Homo sapiens: one gene and its partners. The protein of the gene in region 1 interacts with the protein of each later gene in a pairwise test. Each region holds a gene or a part of one and is shown in the gene's direction. Other genes may lie near its edges. The genes, in order: EBF1, ERO1A and MTNR1B.

Region 1 (4,081 bases):
CAACCCTGGCAGCCTCTAGGCTAGCGGCCGAGAGAGAAGCGTTTCAGAGGCCGGGGTGGGAGTAGAGCCTGGTACCCCACTTCCTGGGGACCCACAGCGCCTCATTTGCCGGGGCCCAGCGTCCATTCATCCCTCCCAGCGTGGAGGCCGTGCCCCTCCGAGAGTTACCAGCCCCGACCTCGCGCACCCATATTCCATCCCACCGCCCCCGCCTCAAAGCGAAGAGGTGGGCACCTGGGACGCGCGTCCTGCTTTTTCTGCCCGGGCTCTCCCGTCTCCTCCACTTTTGTCCCCGACGTCCCAGAACGGCGGAGCAGGACGCGGCATCAGCCCTGGGAGGGCGCAGCCTGCGAGCCTCCAGCGCGCTCAGGGCGCGGCGAGGATGCTAAAGGACTGCAATGGCCAGGATGCAGATCCCCAGCTCAAATTCCTGAGGAAGACACCCGCCTCCCTTTCCCTCTGTCCCCTCTCCGTCCTCGCTCGGACCCGCTCCTCCCCAGCCCAGACGTCAGTGCTCAGCGCTCCTTCGCTCGCCACTTTGCGAGGAACTTTGGCCGGCTCCCCTGCGCCACCGGGAGCGGGATGTTAATGAGAGAGCGTGGCCTGGCGCCGCCAGCGAGCCGGCTCCCGGGCCGCGATTGGCTGCGGTGGGCGGAAAGATGACGTTATGCAAATGAAGGGGCGGGGCCTCGATGCGCGGGCCCCGCCTCCTCCCTTTGGGGTTAGTGTGCCTGTGTTTAGCTCTGGGGAAAGTCAAACTGGATTCCATAGGGAAAGCCTGCAAATCACTTCTATTTTAGCAAGGAGAAAACAGAATCTCCATCCAGCAGGGTCCACCCCTCTCTCTTTCTCCCTCTCCTCTCTATCTCTCTTTCCCTCCCCCCCTTTCCTCTCTCCCTCTCTCCCCTTCCCCCCACCCTCTCTGGTGTATCTGTCTACGGCAACCAGCGTCCTCCTCATCTACACGCAAAGGAAAGAAACATCTTTGGTTGGGAGAGAAGGAGGAAAAAAAAAGAGAGAGAGAGGAAAAAACTTGCCTGGTTGTGGAAAATGACACTTGAAGTAGCAAAGCCGGCAGCGCGAGTTGAGTCTATTGTTTCTTAAATTGCCATCAGGGTTTTTTTTTTTTTTTTTTTTTTTTTTTTTTTTTTTTCTTCCTGCTTCTTCAAGTGAAGGGTACCTCTACAAAAGGAAACTCCAGCCCCTCCTGTCCTCCACCGGCCTGTGATCATTACAAAAAAAAAAAAAAAAAAGCAAAAAAAAAAAAAAAGCACCCAAACCAAAAATCAACCAACCAAACAACCCCCAACAGCCAAGCATACATCTCTAATTTTATTATTTTGGTCTTTTCGTTGGATTTTCCCTTTCTTCTTTTTTTCGGGTTATCGCTCAGTTTTGAGCAGAGGTTTACATTTTTTAAAAATTTGCTTTCCAGCCCGCCTTGATCTTCTAAGTGCGAGTTCATCGTCTGAGAAAAAAAAAAATCTCTGGTTGGCGTTTTTGTTTCTTTTCTTTTCTTTCTTTTCTTTCCTTTTTTTTTTTTTTTAATTTTTTTCAAGGGGGAGGAGATTTTCCACAAGAAAAGGTTGTTTTCATGTTTGGGATTCAGGAAAGCATCCAACGGAGTGGAAGCAGCATGAAGGAAGAGCCGCTGGGCAGCGGCATGAACGCGGTGCGGACGTGGATGCAGGGCGCCGGGGTGCTGGACGCCAACACGGCGGCGCAGAGGTGGGTACTGCGCGGGGACCGCGGCCGAGGTGAGCCGCGAGCGGGAGAGCCGGGAGGCGGAGGCGGCAGCGGCAGCGGCAGCTGCTGCCGCGGGGCCGGGCGGCGGGGTGAGTCCGCAGCCGCTGCGCTCCGCTCTCCGCCGGGGCTCCGCGCTCTCCAGCCGCTCTGCCTTCGTCGCCTGCGGCCGGAGGACCTGGAGCTGTCTGCGAGGAGCCCACGCTTTGCCAGCACTTTCCCCTGCCTCGTCTGTGACTGTTTTCATTTTGTTTTAACCCAGAAGAGGCGTCTCAACACAGCATGTTGGAGATCTGTGTTTTATGTTTTTATGTGATTGCTCTTTCTTTTCCGGCCGGCTCTCTTTTCTTCTTTCCCTTCGCTCTTCCTTTCCCTCTTTTCTTTTTTCTTTCTTTCTTTCTCTTCCTTCCTTCCTTTTTCTTTCTTTTTTCTTTTTCTTTCTTTTTTTCTTTCCTCCTTTTCTTTTTCCTTTTTCTTTCTCTTTCCTCTTCCTGCCTTTCTTTTTTCTTTCTTCCTTCTTTCCTTTCTCCCCCCTTTATTTTCTTCTCTTCTCCTTCCTCTTCCTTTCTTCCCCTCTTCCCTCCTTCCATTTCTTTCGTTCTTCGTTCTTTCCTGTCTCTCTTCCTGCCTTCTTTTCTTTCTTCTTTCTTTCATTTCCTTCTCTCATTTCTTTCCCCCACCTTCCCTTAATTTCTCCCTCACTCTTTTCCTTCCTCCCTTCCTCTCTCCATTTTCTTTCTCTTCTTTCTTCAGCTTCCCTCCTTTCTCCTCTTTCTCCTTTCCTTACCTCTCTGGCTTTCCTGTTTTTTCGTCCCATTTCTCCCCTGAGTCTTCTCTTATTTCTGCTATCTCGTTCTCCTTCCCTCCCTCTCTGTCTTTCAGTTTTTTCTTAGTCTACCGGTAGAATAGCAACTCCCAACTTTAATTCTGATATCTCCCAAAAGTCTTCTCCAGCCCCTGTCACCATGGCCCCTTCCAGCCCTTCTCTCACTCGCAGCTCCCTAGACACTAGACTGTGTGGCCTGGAGGCATTGCCCTTGGAGGTTGACCTGAGGGAACTTTCCTGGGCACACCCAAGGCTCTTTCCCAGGCTCCTGGTCCCAAGTGAGAAATGGCCTTTTTCCCCCCATTAAGCCACCAGCTGAGCTTGGGACAGTGGGAGATCTGGTGGCCCCAGGCCCTATCGGACTCAGAGTGCGGAAGGGGAAGAAGGAAGATGACTAATTACATCATCTCCAGCTTCCCTGGGCTGGGGACAAGTGTCCCCAACACTGTTCCCATCCCCACTGAGTATTAGGATGGGGGTGGGTGGTAGTGAGAGTGAATTGGGTAACTGGGCTGGAAGTGAAAGTGTGTGCGCGGGGCGCTCGTGTGTGTTCTTCTATGTGTGTGTGTGTGCCTGTGCGCGCTTGTGTTGGGCAGGTCCGGCTGTCAGTGGCCGCCTGGCGCCCCAGGCGCTCCAGCCTCCCATCGCCGGCCGGCGCACTGAGCCAGCAGCCCTGGCCTTTAGGATTTCTGGAATGAGTGTGAGGATTTCTGCGGAACAGCGAAACTTTGTTAGGACAGGTCTTTAAGAAAACACCCCTCTTCCCTTTTTCACAGCGACCACCCGCGACAGTTCTGAGCCCCGCCCTCGGACCCTTCTCCACATGCTTTTTGGTGGTGGGGGGATGTGGCTTCCCAAGGCCGGGCACTCGCAGTTGGCCAGAGCTTGAGGGGTTCCTGGAGGGTGGCTGCTGCGGCGAGACGCCGAGCATGTTTTCCATCCATTCCCACCTGCCCTGCTAGCTGAGACGTGAGATTCGAGGGGTGCCGGAATATAACTGTGGGTTCTACTCCGCGAAGGTGGGTTCACTTCATCCACCGCCACTTTTCTTCCTCCCCACGCAGTGCGTGTCAGGTAGGAGTAAATGCTTATAGAGTTTCATCTCGCGCGCAAAACCCAAACAAAACTTTCACACCTCTTCAGCGAGTTCTGAGGACGCACCCGTCCTTGGCGGAGAGGACGAGGACATGAGGGGACATGTGTGTCCCGTTGTCAGCTGGGTCTATGTCGCCTGAAGGGGCGTGAAGAGCGCCCACTGGATGTTTTGGGGGAAGAGGAGGTGGGTGTTTGAGGGTTCGAGTGTGTGTACAGGGTGACAAGGGGCGCGGGTCGGCGTCCGGTTTAGCCATCTAACTCTGCGTCTTTGGCCGCAGCGGGGTGGGTCTGGCCCGGGCTCACTTTGAGAAGCAGCCGCCTTCCAATCTGCGGAAATCCAACTTCTTCCACTTCGTCCTGGCCCTCTACGACAGACAGGGCCAGCCCGTGGAGATCGAGAGGACAGCGTTTGTGGGG
Region 2 (3,647 bases), on another chromosome or scaffold:
TTATATTTCTCTTCTCTCTTACAAAGTTCCACTGGTAAGTAAAGGCAGGTGGACCTCCATACTACTGGGTTTGATCTGATTTTATATATACATACATATATATACACACACACATGAAATTATATATATGTACATATGAAATCATATATATATATCACAGAATCTTTGTAGAGTAATATTATTGAGTAGTTTTTTTTTTTTTAAGTAGGTTTAAAATTAGTACCTCTTGCCTGGATGTCATCTGGTCATAGAAAAATAGTAAAAATAAAGTTAGTACCTCTTACTGAACAGGTACTGAAACACAAGATAGAGAATATTGTTAAGATATGGTAACAATTAACAATAATTTGGGCTTTGTCTTAATAAAGATACTAGATATAGATAGATACTAGATATGGTAGATATGTATAGGTAGATTTCTATACAAATATGTCTGATTTCATACATATTGTATATATATTTTTGTTTTTTTAAGAGATAAAGTCTTATTTTATCACCAGAGTTGAAGTGCAGAGGCATAATCATAGCTCACTGCAGCCTGGAACTCCTGGGTTCAAGCCATCTTCCCACCTCAGCCTCCTGAGTAGCTAGGACTACAGGCTGGCACCACTATGCCCTGCTAACTTTTAAAATTTTTTTGTTGAGTTGGGGTCTCACTATGTTGCCCAGGCTGGTCTTGAATTCTTGGCCTCAAGCAATCTGCCTGTCTTGGCCTCCGAAAAGTGCTGGGAGTACAGGTGTGAGCCACCACCATACCCAGCCTGATTTCATCAAAATATTTACAAAAATCTTCCTCTGCTTTTCATTCTTTCTTTCTGTAATGAAAGAACCTGATTTTATGCACTCAGTTTTTTTGCTGTTAGATAATACTTATTCTTGACTTCCCATCTACCTCCTACTTGAAGCATTCTTGCTACAAATACATACCTCAGTGCTTATATAATCTGCCTAAACAGCTTCCAGGAACTAGAAAGTGAGGGGGAAGATGCTGTAATAAGACTTCTTTTTTTCCTACTATTTTCAATATGTTCCTTTTTTTTTTTAGTTTACTTGCTGCTTTATTGGAAAGTGTTCTGGCATCAGCTCTTTTTAAATCATGCAGATTAGAAAGATTTCTCACAATGTTTTAATTTGATCAAAACTCGGAAACACTCACCTTTAATGTCCTATGAAGTTTAGGTAGAGAGTCTTGATGTAACAGAATTTTTCTGAATCTTTTACAGGAAAGATGTAAAAAACAAAACATGCTACTATCAAAGATTTACTTTTTTAAAAAGCAGTTTCTGGTAAACATCGATTTAAACAGTCATATTTACAAATTAATTTTAAAAATCTCATCTTGTTTCCTTAGTACCCTATCAATGTATGGTTAGAAATAGAGGACTTGTATGAAGGAGAATTATTTAGCATTCAATTCAAATAGAATACGATCTCATTTGAAGACTTGTAAAGTATTTGAGAATTTGGGCAAGAATTGGTCAGTTGGTTTCACTGAATATAAATCACAGCATGCTTGATCATTCTATTGACTGGCTGTAATTTAAAGTGATGACCTAAAACTGTATGTCTAAACAAGGAAAATCTGTAAGTGATTTAGGTACTGGTTATTTTAAGGACCATACCTTTTTCTAACCTGAGATAATTAGGGGATATACTCAGGTTATTGTACATAATTGTTATTTGTTAAGTCACAAGGATTTTCTCCTGTGAAATCCTTACTAATTTTTACTAATTTGATCTAGTAAATTTCTAGCCTATTAATTTGGTCCTAGCATATTAAGTTCACTTAAGCAGAAGATGCATGCTATTTGATGTGCTTGGTTTTAATTTTACAATGTTTATTTGGCTATTGTAAGCAGCCATGCCTGCTCTCTGTACATGTCATACAAAGACTTACTCAAGAGCTGTCACATTCAAGTATTTGAATTAACGTAGAAGCAAACATTGAAATTAGCGTCTACAAAAGCAAGCACAGTCTTTTAGAACAGAGGCTTCCAACTCTCACAAGTATGGGAGTCTCTTATACTCAGGAACTTTCAAGGCCTCTTCTCATGACAGAGTATTTTTAGTATCTGTTGATTTTGAAAATATGATTGCCAAAAAGCCACCATGCATTTAGTAACACTTTAAAAGTAAAAGTTGTGTTTTATTGATCATAACATTTCTATCCATTTGGAAATTTATAGTGCATATATGTGAGCTATTTATTCTGTGGTATATAGTCTTGTCTCTATGTGGATTCTGTGGATCCTCATAATAACCATTAAGTCTTCTGGAAGTCAACAGCTCATAGGATGGGAACATGTTCTTTAGGGTAACTTTCTTACTCTGTTATTATTGTTAAAAGTGTGATTTTTCTTTAAGTTTTGGTCAATGCTCTAGTTTAAAGGCAACCTAAAATCAGATCACAGAATCTTTGTAGAGTAATATTACCGGTTAGTTTTAAGTAGGTTTAAAATTAGTACCTGTTGCTTGGATGTCATGTGGTCATAAAAATAAAAAAAAAATAGTACCTCTTACTGTACAGGTACTGAAACCAAGATAGAGAATATTATTAAGATATGGTAACAATGAACAATTTGGGCTTTGTCTTAATTAATAAAGATATTACATCTTAGATCCTATTAAAACTTTCTTTCATGTTACAGCTGTTTGAAAGTCACAAACTGAATAAAGCATGTTGGGAAAGTCTGTCTCCAGAGCAAATTGAGGTTTCCTTTGAATAGTGGGTTCCAATCATTGATTTATTCCTATTTTAGATTTGTGGTCCTGCCTTCATCTGGTTGAGCCTAGTGTGTGGTTTATCACATTAGAATAAGAGAAATACTGTGTGCTCCCTAAATTATAGGCCAATTTGTATAATGGATGTTCTATCTGAGATGTATGTCAGATTTCCTGCTAAGAATACTGTAAGCTTGAGATTCCCCTCTTAGTCCAGTACAGGAGTCTCTTGGAGGATCAGTTGGTAATTTCCATTGAAGGAAAAGAAGGATGTGTTCTTGGCTTCCCTTCTTTTTTCCATATTCCTTAAGGACATATACTATGTTTAGATTAGCTGGATGCATGTCGCCCTATTATAAATGATATAATATTCTAGGGTTCATGGATGTATACATATGTATTAAAAGCATAAAAACAAAAAGGGAACAATGCCAAATTCAATATAGTAGTAGAGGGTGGGATATGGGACTCGAGAGATAACATGAGGGGCTTCGATTGTACTTGTGACAAATTTTTCTAAAACTTGGTAGTGGGTATGTGGCATTCACTATATTTTATATATTTTTGCATTTTAATAGTAATAGTAATTTAATATTAACAAAGGAAGACCTGATTGTTTACCTTATTCATACCAGAAAGAAGGGCTGTGGTTGAATTATTATGAAACCAAAGGGCTGGGCACAGTGGCTCACGCCTGTAATCCCAGCACTTTGGGAGGTCGAGGTGGGCGGATCACGAGGTCAGGAGATCGAGACCATCCTGGCTAACATGGTGAAACCCTGCCTCTACTAAAAAAAAAAAAAAAAAAAAAAAAAAAAAAAAAAAAAAATTAGCTGGGCGTGGTGGCAGGTGCCTGTAGTCCCGGCTACTCAGGACGCTGAGGCAGGAGAATGGTGTGAACCTGGGAGGCAGAGCTTGCAGTGAGC
Region 3 (3,779 bases), on another chromosome or scaffold:
CCTGTCTCCCTGGTTTCCTAACCTAGCTGTGGACACAGTAGTATTATAGTTAGGTCTTGAGAACTCCCAGGACTCCAGTAGACTTGTGTGGGTTCTCAGTGGGGTTGACCCCATTCCTCTGAGGTCAAAATAGGCCCTTCATGAAGGCTTCCTGAGGGTCTTTCAAGTTCCCATCCCCATTCGGACCATGCTATGGGGAATCTTCTTTGAGATGGGGTGAATGTGGGAAGGCTGGAGGCAGTCCTTTTCCTACCCTTGTGGGTGAATAAGTCCAGGTGTGCCATCTACTTCACTTGAAGGGCTGACTCAGGTGAAATCCCAGCTGGGCGGCTCTCAGCCTCCCTTTTTCTGTACCCCGTGGAATCCACACAGAGCCTGGCCTCTCCAATTGCTGTGCTTTGGGGGCTCTTTCCACCTGCCTGACCCTCTAGACCCCCAAAGCCACCACAGCCTCTGTGGCAATGGGACAGACACATGGTGGCTGTGGAGTTTCCATGTCTGTGTCTTTGCTGACTTGGGAGTTCCTCCTGCACACCATCCCAGCCGCCCTCTGCATTCCGCCACCCTAAGGCTGGAGGCTTCACCATGTGGCAAGAGACCAGAAAATTTAAAATACCATGCCCAGTGCACATTGCATCACTCAGGGACCCTGCTGGAGGGAGAGTCTGTTATCTTTTGAGCATACAGTAGGTATTCAAAAAGTACAACACTTGGTGAATGAGAAGATTGGCATTAGTGATGGAACTGCTCACACTATGAGCTTTGTATTGCCCAAACGTTTAGGTTCTTGGTGCTCTATTCGTGAGTCAGTGTTGGTTTTAGAACGCAAACACTTGAGGAGCAGAGATTGTGTTCTTTTAGAGTAAGCCCTGCCTCTGCCCTGGGACTCCAGCTTAGAACATGCCTGAAGCATATTAATTGATGGGTGTATCATTTCCTGAGGCTCTCTCTGGTTGACCAAGCTTGGTGATGTTGGATAAGGCTCCATTCAAAGGATAAATGCCTAGATAGTCCAGGAAGGCCACCATGGTGCAGGCAAAGCAGGGAGGCCCCCCAGAGGCTGTGAGCTTAGGAGTGCTGACAGCCCTTTCTCACCCCACAGGGCTGGGGCTCTGTGCCGCTACTGCAAGTGTCTGTCAACATGGCCACAAGGCTGGGAGTACTGGACCCAGACAGGGCACAAATGGGAATACCAGAAACACATGGTTCCCACTCTCAACACCTTTCTTCTAGTCCAGCTGCAAAATGCAATTCACATTTACAAAACCCATGTAAAGACACTTAGAAAGTAGCCTGTTAACCAGTGGGGAGAAAATGCAAAAGGAGACAACCAGAGAGATGTGCGAGGAGGTGAGGGAATGTGAGGGAGCGATGATAGTGATGAGAAATCCACACTCCTGACTTTCAGACTCTCCTCCTCCGAAATCTTTGCTGGAGCTTAAATGGTGCAAAGCCCGTGAGCATCTGTGCCTATCATGGAAACAGTTAGCATGTGTCAGCACCTGTTAAATCCCTGAGCACTTTGTATCATTAATTCTTACAGCTATACTATGAGGTAGGTATCACTGCCCCTAGTTCACAAATGAGGAAAATGGGGCTCTGAGAGCCTAAACAGCTTGCCTCAGTCATATAGCTAGTGAGTGGCAGAAATGCAATCTGAGTCTTCAGTTCTGTGCCTCTAAGAGCCACTTGGTTTCCACTCACATTGCCAAAAGTAACTTCGTGGAGGGTAGGATGTTCTACAGAATCTAAGTCGTGGGGTCTCGTGCTGACTGTTGCTCTGTTTGCTGCTTCAGGTAATTTGTTCTTGGTGAGTCTGGCATTGGCTGACCTGGTGGTGGCCTTCTACCCCTACCCGCTAATCCTCGTGGCCATCTTCTATGACGGCTGGGCCCTGGGGGAGGAGCACTGCAAGGCCAGCGCCTTTGTGATGGGCCTGAGCGTCATCGGCTCTGTCTTCAATATCACTGCCATCGCCATTAACCGCTACTGCTACATCTGCCACAGCATGGCCTACCACCGAATCTACCGGCGCTGGCACACCCCTCTGCACATCTGCCTCATCTGGCTCCTCACCGTGGTGGCCTTGCTGCCCAACTTCTTTGTGGGGTCCCTGGAGTACGACCCACGCATCTATTCCTGCACCTTCATCCAGACCGCCAGCACCCAGTACACGGCGGCAGTGGTGGTCATCCACTTCCTCCTCCCTATCGCTGTCGTGTCCTTCTGCTACCTGCGCATCTGGGTGCTGGTGCTTCAGGCCCGCAGGAAAGCCAAGCCAGAGAGCAGGCTGTGCCTGAAGCCCAGCGACTTGCGGAGCTTTCTAACCATGTTTGTGGTGTTTGTGATCTTTGCCATCTGCTGGGCTCCACTTAACTGCATCGGCCTCGCTGTGGCCATCAACCCCCAAGAAATGGCTCCCCAGATCCCTGAGGGGCTATTTGTCACTAGCTACTTACTGGCTTATTTCAACAGCTGCCTGAATGCCATTGTCTATGGGCTCTTGAACCAAAACTTCCGCAGGGAATACAAGAGGATCCTCTTGGCCCTTTGGAACCCACGGCACTGCATTCAAGATGCTTCCAAGGGCAGCCACGCGGAGGGGCTGCAGAGCCCAGCTCCACCCATCATTGGTGTGCAGCACCAGGCAGATGCTCTCTAGCCTGGATCTGAGGCACACCAGCAGCATGACAAACTCATGAAATGGTGGGAGAGAGTCTGCTGCAAGGGTGAGACCAGGCAGCCTGCTGGGCCACACTGTCCTGTTGGCATCACAGCCCCAAGGCTGGGGGAACTTCATGCTGGGACAAGCAGCCCATCAACGCCATGGGTTCAGGCTGATCCAGGAGATGCTCACAGGCCACAGGACCTGGAAAACACTCTTGGTGGTGTCTTGGGGATTTGGTGCACACAAGACCAAGGAAAGGACAGAATGAGGAAAGGCCTGGGGCAGAAGAGCCCAACTCCTTCTCATAGCTGACCCTCATCCTCCTGCCTTGGCCTCCTGGCTGCTTTCTCCCCTTCCCCCCAGCGTGGCAGGATCTCTTCCTGTTAGCAAGGATGAAAGAGAGAGGTCAGTAGGACTGGAACTTGGTAACTGCAAGGGCCTCAGGTGGGGCAGGTGCAGAGGGCAAGCATTCCACACTCCGCCATTGACCTTCCCTACACACACACAATCACAACCACACATGCATCACACCACAGACACACCACACTATGCACACATACACTGTGTACACATACATATGTTACACACACATAGCCACCACATCACAAACACACTGCACCCCCCCCCCCCACACACACACACACAGTCACACTGCTCCAGCATCTGGAGCACAAAGTCCGCTTGGCCTCCTTTTCTGGTTCCATCATGTTCAGGTTGTGTGACTTGGGGAAAGTCTCCTAACCTCCCTGTTCCTCAGTTTACTCATCTTAAAGTGAAGATCATGCCGTAGTCAGCCTCCCAGGTTGTTGTGAGGATTCTCTGGGATAACACATCTGCAGAGCTGAGGACAGTGCCTGACATGTGGCTAGCAGGCAGTAATCATTAGCTTTTGTTATTATTATAACTACATAAAATGAAGGAGAAAAGTCATATACAAAGAAAGGAAGGGCTATCACCGGATGCGGTGCCTCACCCCTGCCTCAGCTTGAACCCAGGAGTTCAAGACCAGCCTAAGCAACATGGCAAAACCCTGTCTCTACAAAAATTAGCTGGGCATGGTGGCCCATTCCTGTGGTCCTAACTACTCAGGAGGCTGAGGTGGGAGGATCAC

What was found.
Region 2: the proteins of EBF1 (region 1) and ERO1A interact in a two-hybrid assay, tested with the Homo sapiens proteins (one large-scale study listed by BioGRID and IntAct).
Region 3: the proteins of EBF1 (region 1) and MTNR1B interact in a two-hybrid assay, tested with the Homo sapiens proteins (one large-scale study listed by BioGRID and IntAct).

The regions. Positions count from the first base shown.
Region 1 is NC_000005.10:159,096,992-159,101,072, reverse strand, and holds the start of EBF1 (transcription factor COE1), read left to right. Parts: upstream 1-1,156; 5' UTR 1,157-1,594; coding exon 1,595-1,728; intron 1,729-3,116; exon of another isoform or gene 3,117-3,828; coding exon of another isoform or gene 3,829-3,848; intron 3,849-3,942; coding exon 3,943-4,081. UniProt on the Homo sapiens protein: Key pioneer transcription factor of B-cell specification and commitment. Recognizes variations of the palindromic sequence 5'-ATTCCCNNGGGAATT-3'.
Region 2 is NC_000014.9:52,647,046-52,650,692, reverse strand, and holds part of ERO1A (ERO1-like protein alpha isoform 2 precursor), read left to right. Parts: intron 1-3,647. UniProt on the Homo sapiens protein: Oxidoreductase involved in disulfide bond formation in the endoplasmic reticulum. Efficiently reoxidizes P4HB/PDI, the enzyme catalyzing protein disulfide formation, in order to allow P4HB to sustain additional rounds of disulfide formation.
Region 3 is NC_000011.10:92,979,651-92,983,429, forward strand, and holds the end of MTNR1B (melatonin receptor type 1B), read left to right. Parts: intron 1-1,796; coding exon 1,797-2,662; 3' UTR 2,663-3,132; downstream 3,133-3,779.